2 linked regions of the Homo sapiens genome follow. The protein of the gene in region 1 interacts with the protein of each later gene in a pairwise test. Each region holds a gene or a part of one and is shown in the gene's direction. Other genes may lie near its edges. The genes, in order: SYMPK and CPSF2.

Region 1 (3,758 bases):
TGTGCCCATATGCCCAACACAGCCCTTAGCCTGGCACCCCCCATCTTCCCAGCACCAGCGCAAGCCCTGTATCCTTGTCAGGACTGGGTGGGCAGTCCCTTGGCCCTCTGACAAGCTGGTCTGTGGACTGCTGTTCTCTCTGGAGGGGCTGGTAGAAACCAATAGCTGCCTTCCCTCCCTAGCAGGGGTGGGGGGCCCTGCCACTCCCCCAGGGCTTGGCAACACATCTTTCCCAAGGTCGTCCTTAAAGTGAGGGGCCACGGGTTCCCTGTTCCACCCATTTTGGGGCTTCCTGGAGTTGGATGTCTTCTCCCTTGAACCAAGCCTGCAGGTTTTCCAAGGGCGGGGCTTGCAGTGTGCCTTCTGCTGGGTCGGGGGAGTCTCCTCTCTCCCGCAGGGGCTTTAGAAGTCAGGGCTTTAGAAGTCTTCCCCTCACATGGGCAGACAGCAGAGGCCGGGACTCCCACCTCCCAGGGGGCAGCTGGGCAGAGAGGACAGGCCCACTCTCCGCCTCCTCGCAGCCACCAACCTGTGCTTTGCGGAGCGGAACGTGTACACGTCAGAGGTGCTGGCCGTGGTGATGCAGCAGCTGATGGAGCAGAGCCCCCTGCCCATGCTGCTCATGAGGACCGTCATCCAGTCCCTGACCATGTACCCCCGCCTGGGGGGCTTCGTCATGAACATCCTGTCCCGCCTCATCATGAAGCAGGTAACCCATCCCCGGCCACCCCGCCTCCAGGCTGCAGACAGCAGCTTCTAGCCTGCTTGCCCTCCCCTTCCCCCGTCTGACCCCGGAGGGAGCCCGGTGGAGGACAGCAGGCTCTGCTCTGCCTCCTGCCAAGAAAATAGCAGTGCTCCAGGGTGTATGACTGGGCCAGCTCCCAGGTGATGAGGGAGGGCAGCTGGGTGGTAGGAGCTGTGGTAACCCTCAAGGGGTGTGCACCCGGGAGAGGCATGGCTGCTCCTCACCCTCCACCGCTGTGTGCCCGGCCAGGATGCATCCCAGAGCTGAAAAATGGCCCAGTTTTTTAAGAGGTGCTAGAAATTTGGGCTTTAGAAATACCACGATAAGGCCAGGTGTGATGGTTCACACCTGTAATGCCAACTCTTTGGGAGGCCGAGACAGGAGGACTGCTTGAGCCCAGGAGTTTGGGGCTGCAGTGAGGAAGAAACGCGCCACTCACTGCACTCTAGCCTGGGCGGCAGAGTAAGACCATCTCTCAAAAAAAAAAAAAAAAAAAAAAAAAAAAGAGAACAAAAAAACCAAACCCCGCAGGACTAATGTCGCCCCCTGGAGGCTGCGGTGAGAATGTACATGTGACCCAGGACAGGTCCCGGCACCGGCACGGACCTCCGCTGTTTAGCAGGGGTAATTTCGCCCCCTGGAGGCTGCCGTGAGAATGTCATGAGAGGTGCTCCCGCAGCACTTAGCCTGGGCCTGGCCCAGGGGGAGCTCTGGTAAAAGGCGGCTGAGTTTTCTTCCACCCCCTTCCCAAGTTGCCCTCGTGGTCCAGCCGCCTGGATCGGGAAGACAAAGGCCTCTGGAGGGAGGTCGGGGCTGCTTGTTGCCCATCCAGAGGAATCTTGGATGGTGGGATTTGGGCATGGTCTTGGCAAGGTCTTTCTCCCAGTGTCAAGGCTCGGGGGGATGCCTGTGTGCCTCTCCCGACGGCTCCCTCCCTCCCTGGTTCAGGTGTGGAAGTACCCCAAGGTGTGGGAGGGCTTCATCAAGTGCTGCCAGCGCACAAAGCCCCAGAGCTTCCAGGTCATCCTGCAGCTGCCGCCCCAGCAGCTGGGAGCCGTCTTTGACAAGTGCCCAGAGCTCCGGGAGCCCCTGCTGGCCCATGTCCGCTCCTTCACCCCCCACCAGGTACCCCTTCCCCCCACCAGGTACCCTTTCCCCCCACCCAGGGTGTGCGGTGGGCGGCCCCCTGGGTCCCTCTGGTTGGTGGGGACTGGATGGAGGCGGACACAAGAAGGCCCTGCACTGCTGGGAGTTCTGGAGGGTTAGGGCCCCCGGACCTGAGGTGTGCAAATGGGGTCTCTGTGCCAGAGCTGCCCCCAGCGCCCCCTTCCTGCTCTCCACCCAGCAAGCTCACATCCCTAACTCCATCATGACCATCTTGGAGGCCAGCGGCAAGCAGGAGCCAGAGGCCAAGGAGGCGCCTGCGGGGCCCTTGGAGGAGGTGAGGGCCCTGCAGCCCACCCATCTGGATCCCCAGACTCCCACCCCCTACCCCAAGCCAGCAAGGCTCACCATGGCCTCCTCCTGACCCCGAGAGACTCAGGCCACCCCTGCCTCTGGGCCACCCGTCTCCCAGGGGATGCTCCTGCTGGGAGTTGGGGGTCTGGGGGACAACTGCCCCTTCCTCCCCATGCTCTTGGTGAAGAACTCAAAGACCACCTCAGGGTGGTTCCTTCTCTTTCCGGCCGTCCTCTGAGCCACCCACCTCTGAGCTTCTGTGTGGCCCTCCCTATCCCCAGGATGATCTGGAGCCCCTGACCTTGGCCCCGGCCCCAGCACCCCGGCCCCCTCAGGACCTCATCGGCCTGCGACTGGCCCAGGAGAAGGCCTTAAAGCGGCAGCTGGAGGAGGAACAGAAGCTGAAGCCGGGAGGAGTGGGAGCCCCCTCCTCTTCCTCCCCCTCTCCCTCTCCGTCGGCCCGGCCAGGCCCGCCCCCGTCTGAGGAAGCCATGGATTTCCGGGAGGAGGGGCCTGAGTGCGAGACCCCGGGCATCTTCATCAGCATGGATGACGACTCGGGGCTGACCGAGGCCGCGCTGTTGGACTCTAGTCTCGAGGGCCCCCTACCCAAGGTAGGGAGAGCAGCCTCCGCTGCGAAGGAAGAAGCCGGATCTGGGCCGGGGTGAAGGTGGGGGAGGAGGGGCCATCAGGGGGCAGGGCCTGAAGGGGAGCGTGGAGGTGACCGCGCCCTCCACCCGGCTGCCCTTTCCTTCCCCGGTCACCAGGAGACGGCAGCGGGCGGGCTGACCTTGAAGGAGGAGCGGAGCCCCCAGACCCTCGCACCTGTTGGAGAAGATGCTATGAAGACTCCCAGCCCGGCTGCCGAGGACGCCAGGGAACCCGAGGCCAAGGGGAACAGCTGACGGGGCTCGAGGGGGAAAGGGGGTGGGACAGGGACTCGGGGCTGGGGGACGGGGCGGGGCTTGACCTGCGGGTGCTTTGCCTTAAAAAGAAATAAAAGATGTGAACTTGGGCAAGTTACTGAAAAGAAAAAAAAAAAGGGATGGCGGGCCTGGGGCGCGGGTGCCGTCTCGAGTCTGGCGCGACGTCCACCGTGGGGCTGCGCGGGATCGGGAGTGCGCGCCCAGAGCCTGCGCGGAACCCACCCTGGCCCGCTCCCCGCGCCCTCCACGGGTAACGGCCCCCTCTCTCGGTGCTCAGAAACCGGCGGTGTCGACAGGTGGCTCTCGCTTGGCCTCCTTGTCTGCAAGCCTTTCTCCTAGAGATCTGTGCCTCCTGGCGAACCATGGGAGACCTGCCGCCCTACCCTGAGCGCCCTGCCCAGCAGCCTCCGGGCCGGAGGACTTCTCAGGCCTCCCAGAGGCGGCACAGTCGGGACCAAGCTCAGGCCCTGGCAGCGGACCCCGAGGAGAGGCAGCAGATACCTCCAGACGCCCAGCGAAACGCCCCTGGTTGGTCACAGAGGGGCAGCCTGTCCCAACAGGAGAACTTGCTGATGCCCCAGGTCTTCCAGGCTGAGGAAGCCCGGCTGGGTGGCATGGAGTACCCATCT
Region 2 (5,677 bases), on another chromosome or scaffold:
CATTTTCATGTGAGTTTAGATTCTGCTTATCGATTTCTTTTTTTTCTTTTTTTTTTTTTTTGAGATAGCATCTTGCTTTGTCACCCAGGCTGGAGTGCTATGGCTCAATCTCAGCTCACTGCAACCTCCGCCTCCTGGGTTCGAGAGATTCTCCTGCCTCAGCCTCCAGAGTAGTTAGGACTACAGGCGCGTGCCACCATGCCAGGCTAATTTTTGTATTTTTAATAGAGATGAGGTTTCATCATGCTGACCAGGCTGGTCTCGAACTCCTGACATCAAGTAACCCGGCTGCCTCAGCCTCCCAAAGTGCTGGGATTACAGTCGTGAGCCACCATACTCAGCCTAAGATTCAGCTTACCAATTTCTGCAAAAAAGCCCACTCATTTTTAATAGGAGGTAAAAAGCAGTTGACATTTATAACTTAGAGTCTTTTAATGTTAGTGCTGAAAGGGACTAGAGAGCTCATCTAATTCAACCCACTTATTTTAGTATTGAATGAATGACCCTGTACAAGGAAAGGGATTTGCTTGAGATCCACACAGCTGTTTAAAGGCAGAGTTGGGATTGGAACCAAGTCTTAGAGAATCCATTGTTGCTTCTACACTGCATTATTGCTTTGGTTCCCTAGTGTACATTCACTTTGCTTAGGAGTGATATGTTCAGTTTATCTTCTCTAAGAATGGCAGCTGTTATTTAGGACAGTGGCATGCTGAGAAATAGATTGATTTCTATTCTATACTGTGTCCAGTAAAGGTCGGGGGAGAAAGAGTAAATCTTATCTTCTTCTGTACTTTTCTTTGATTAATGTAAGAGTCTAGAGTTTTATCAGAAGATTATTGTCCTTTAAAATATTGATGGACTGATTATCACTTAAAGGGTATAAACAGTGGGTAGTAATTCAGTGATTGAGAGGTTAATTGCAGGTTTTTTTTTTTTTTTTTTCTGGTAACCATAGAATGAATGTAGAATGAATTTGGATTCAATAATGGGAACTAAGGTCAGGCGTGGTGGCTCACACCTGTAATCCCAGCACTTTGGGAGGCCGAGGCGGGTGGATCATCTGAGGTCAGGAGTTCCAGACCAGCCTGGCCAACATGGTGAAACCTCATCTCTACTAAAATTACGAAAAATTAGTCAGGTGTGGTGACGGGTGCCTATAATCCCAGCTACTTGGGAGGCTGAGGCAGTAGAATCGCTTGAACCCGGGATGCGGAAGTTGCAGTGAGCCAAGATCACGCCACTGTACTCCATCTTGGGCGACAGAGCGCAACTCTGTCTCCAAAAAAAAAAAAAAAAAAGGGCAGGGGGAGCGGCTAGAGAAGGAACATTCAAATCTTCCCACGTGGGCAAGTTCCAAGCAAATGTTTATTTTTTTACCTCCTCTTTGGTTTTTGTCTCACTTGAAGCACTTTGTGTTTATGGGAAAATACCAAAAATTACCAAAATTTAAAAACCCAGGGCTTTGCTGGAAGTGAGGGTATCTTCTTGGCTTTTCCCTTTTCCTCCCCACCACTATACGCACATGCACACACAGCTCTATTTTTTGGTGCTTTTCGTTCATTATTCACTCCATTTCATTTTAGCTCTTGAAGTCAAAATGGGATTCCAAAGAGCAAAATAGAAGTTTGGAGAGTTTGAAATCTCTCCTCGTGGCTGGACGCCGTGGCTCACACCTGTGATCCCAGCACTTTGGGAGGCCAAGGCAGGCATACTGCTTGAACTCAGGAGTTCAAGACCAGCCTGGGGAACATGGTAAAACCCTGTCTCTACAAAAAATAGAAAAATTAGCTGGGCATGGTGGCTGTAGTCCCAGCTATTTGGGAGGCTGAGGTGGGAGGATCACTTGAGCCTGGGGAGGTTGAGACTGCACTGAGTCTTGAATGAATGAATCCATCTCTCTTTCTCTCTCCATATAGTCAAAGAGAACCAAAAATGTATGTGCTTTTTTTGTGAAATTGTTAAGGATTCCATGATCCTACTAAAATTTTTGATAATGATAATTTCAAGTGGAGAATATATAAAGGACTCGTGAGGCCTTCCTACCTCATTTTCTGAGGTTATGTTGACTTTAATATCCAATGTATCATAGGTGTTTTCTTTTTTCTCTGACAATTGTTATGTTAAAAACAAAAAGAAGCACATACTGTACAGTCAAAACTATCAGACGTAACTCTGTGGGAAACTTTATTCCAAGGGTGCTGCCACTGCCCTTGTTTTAAATATTTTTGGAACTTCATTTCTCTTCAGGTCTATTTAATAAGCTTGTTAGGAATATTGTAAATTATTTTAGAAACACATTGTGGTCTCAGCCTCATGTGGCATTGCCACTTGTTACTACATGACCCCCCCACACCCCCTAAAAAAGAAAAAGGACTTTAAAAACCCTCTCAGGACAAACATTTGCTACCGTGGTTGATTTTTTAATTTTACATTAACTATTTAATATCAGACTATAACTAAAATACAAGTAGTGGAATTATACTTTTATAAAGTATCAAATTATGTAGATGATGACGAAGTTATAAGGTTACTATAATTTCCAACTTCACCCATAGGTCATGGTATAGTTGAAATTTCATATTTAAATATCAAAACATAAATGTCTAAAGAGATTGTGTAAATTCTTTATCAGTTATAAGGAAAAACCAAATTCAAATTCTTAAGGTTTTTCTTATATGTGATTTTTTTTTTTTTTTTTTTTTTGAGACAAACTTGCAGGGAGAGAATTATGTGGCATGAGGAGGATTGAGAATGTTGTTCATTTTATCTAATTACTGCCTATTAAGAAAAGCTTCACATTTATTTCAGCTATTCTATTGAATACTTTTACCTAAGATAATGAAACCGTTAAGTAGAGATTTTTCTAATAGTATAAAAATCAGTGTAGGCCCAGCACAGTGGTTCACACCTGTAATCCCAGCACCTTGGGAGGCTAAAGGCAGGAGGATTGCTTGAGCTCAGGAGTTTGAGACCAACCTGGGCAACATAGTGAGAACTCATCTCTATTAAAAATCAGAAAAATTGGCCAGGTGTGGTGGCTCATGCCTGTAGTCCCAGTTACTCAGGAGGCTGAGGCAGGAGGATCCCTTGAGATTGAGGCTTCAGTGAGCTAATGATCGCGCCACTGCACTCCAGCCTGGGTGACAGAGTGAGACCCTGTCTCAAAAACAACAAAAATCTCAGTGTGACAAATTCCTAACAGCTCAAATACTACTTGTCTTATTTGTTAACTATTTTGAAATAATTTTAAACTTACAGAAAAGTAGAATAGTTCAAAAGATCCTGTATATCCTTCCCCTAGATTCTTCTATTGTTAACATCTTGCCATATTTTCCATACCACTCTCTAGCTATGTATTCACATTATTTTTTGAACTGTTTGTTACTAAGTTGCAATTGTGATGTCCCATTAGTACTAAATACTTAAGTGTATACTTTTTAAAAACAAGGACACTCCTACATAACCACAGTACTTAAAATCAGGAAACCAGCATTGATAAAATTCTACCATTTGATCCACGAACCCCATTCAAATGTTGCCATTTACTCCAAAAATATCCTTACAATAACCCTTTCCTTTTTTGGTCCACAGTCCAATCAGGATGAAGCACGCATTTAGTTACATTTTCCCTTTAGTCTTCCTCAATCTGGAGCGGTTCCTTGGTTTTTCCTTTTTTGTGACCTTGACATTTTTGAAGAATGCAGGCCAGGTACTTTGTAGAATGATGTGCACTTTGGGTTTGTCTGATATTTCCTCAAGATTAGATTCAGGTTGTGAATTTTTGGCAGGAATACCAGAGAGGTGATGCTGTCTTCTTCTCTGCATTGTATCAGGAGGCACATCATGTCAATTTTTTCCATTACTGGTGATGTTAATTTTTAACAGTTGGTTACGATGTTTTCAAGATTTCTCCACTGTTAGTATTTTCTCCACTTGTATTTGTTTTTTGGTATAAACTTAAAAAGTACAGCATGATGTTTTGGTATATGTATCCATAGTGAAATGATTATTACAGGTATTAATTAATGAGGAATTACGTATTTTGTGGGTAGCTATTTTGAGACTCTCAATATCCTATTTCTCAAAATTTTACCCTTTACTTTTAGCATCCATTGATGATCCTTGTCTGGATCAGTTATTGCCAAATGGTAGTTTTCTTTTCTTTTCTTTTCTTTTGAGACAGTGTCTTGCTCTGTTGCCCAGGCTACAGTGCAGTGATGAGATCATAGCCCACTGCAGCCTCAAACTCCTGGGCTCATGCCATTTTCCCCTCAGCTTTTGGAGTTAGCTGGGACTACAGGCATGCATCACCACACCCAGATTATTTTTAAAGTTTTTGTAGAAACGGGGTCTCTTCTTCCCCATTTATTCAATATTTATATCAGTATAGAACATGGGTCCCTGTTTTATCATCTGTAAGTTATGATTTATTTTGATGCCCCCATTGTCCAAGATTTGACTAGCGAGAGCACTTTCCAGCTAGCTCCTGTGTCCTTTGGACATACCCCATGGTTCATTGAGCACTTCCTTGCTTTCTGGCACCACAAGATGTTCCAGGCTCGTCTTCTATTTTCCCTACCCCGCTCCTGACATCAGCCATTTCTCCAAAGAGTCCTGGTTCATATTAGTGGAGAATGGTATTTAAAACCAAGATCCGGATGCTAAAGGCTGTGCTCATTGCCCCTGTGCTAGCATTGCCACTGTGCGTTCTCCCAGTGGACAAATTTGGAAATATATGCGTCTATGCTTGTTACCTCATCCATCCATATATATATTAAAAACAAGTACACACTGATACCTATTTCACATCTACTCCACAGAGTTTATTCTAGTCTTCTCCCTTTCCACAATTGTATCTTCTCCACCCTATATTTAAAAACTGGACTTCCAGAGTCTCCAATACATTGGCTTATTTGTTCATTTTCCCTGTGATTAACCAACCTCCTGACCACGTGGCTGGCTCCTTTGCTCCATCTCTGCCCCTCACCCCCTACCGTACATCACTGCTGTGAGGACCAAGTTTCCTCCCTTTCCTCGATCCATGACAGCACCTGCCAGTTGAACCCCACAGTGGGAATTTTAAAGAAGGCACTTTTGGCTCAGATGGCAGTGCCAAAGCAGGCATTCCAATTCACATGGTGCTCTAGCAATTGTGAAATAAACAGATTCTGAAGGTCTGTCCTGGACTGTGTATAGTCTTTGGGTTTTTGTCTTGCTTATTTTGTTAAAATGTTTTCCTGATGACTTTCTATTCTATAGTAAAGCCTTATACATAATGTTCAAGCAGGCGTCAGACAAAATAATGATCATTGTGGAGAGGAGTTAGGAAGGAAAAGATGAAAAGGAAGAAGGCGTAAACCCAATATTGAGAGGAGAAATGGGTACGGCAGGAGTAGCCGTCTGAATCCGAAATGCTGTCTGAGCCAGGACACATTCACAGTTAGAGATCTTAAGTAATGTGTTAATATTATTTTATAACTGTCCTTGCAAAAACAAAACAAAACTGCCTGTCAGTTCATTTGGATCATCCACCCACTTAAGTTTTAGGAGTGTCAGGACCAAGTTAGCTGTATTGAGTGCTGAGGTGTTCTTTTATTAAACAGTCAGCTATTCAATCTTAATAATTTGTAGTGGGAGGAATAATATGCCCCTGGACAAATAATTCCTTGGAAAGCTC

Evidence for each region.
Region 2: the proteins of SYMPK (region 1) and CPSF2 interact in binary tests that used the Homo sapiens proteins (3 or more experiments, as listed by UniProt).

Annotation. Positions count from the first base shown.
Region 1 is NC_000019.10:45,814,910-45,818,667, reverse strand, and holds the end of SYMPK (symplekin), read left to right. Parts: intron 1-521; coding exon 522-709; intron 710-1,693; coding exon 1,694-1,870; intron 1,871-2,053; coding exon of another isoform or gene 2,054-2,090; coding exon 2,091-2,186; intron 2,187-2,484; coding exon 2,485-2,817; intron 2,818-2,970; coding exon 2,971-3,108; 3' UTR 3,109-3,258; downstream 3,259-3,758. Other genes in the region: RSPH6A (radial spoke head protein 6 homolog A), read left to right, coding at 3,492-3,758. UniProt on the Homo sapiens protein: Scaffold protein that functions as a component of a multimolecular complex involved in histone mRNA 3'-end processing. Specific component of the tight junction (TJ) plaque, but might not be an exclusively junctional component. May have a house-keeping rule.
Region 2 is NC_000014.9:92,166,969-92,172,645, forward strand, and holds the end of CPSF2 (cleavage and polyadenylation specificity factor subunit 2), read left to right. Parts: 3' UTR 1-5,177; downstream 5,178-5,677. UniProt on the Homo sapiens protein: Component of the cleavage and polyadenylation specificity factor (CPSF) complex that play a key role in pre-mRNA 3'-end formation, recognizing the AAUAAA signal sequence and interacting with poly(A) polymerase and other factors to bring about cleavage and poly(A) addition.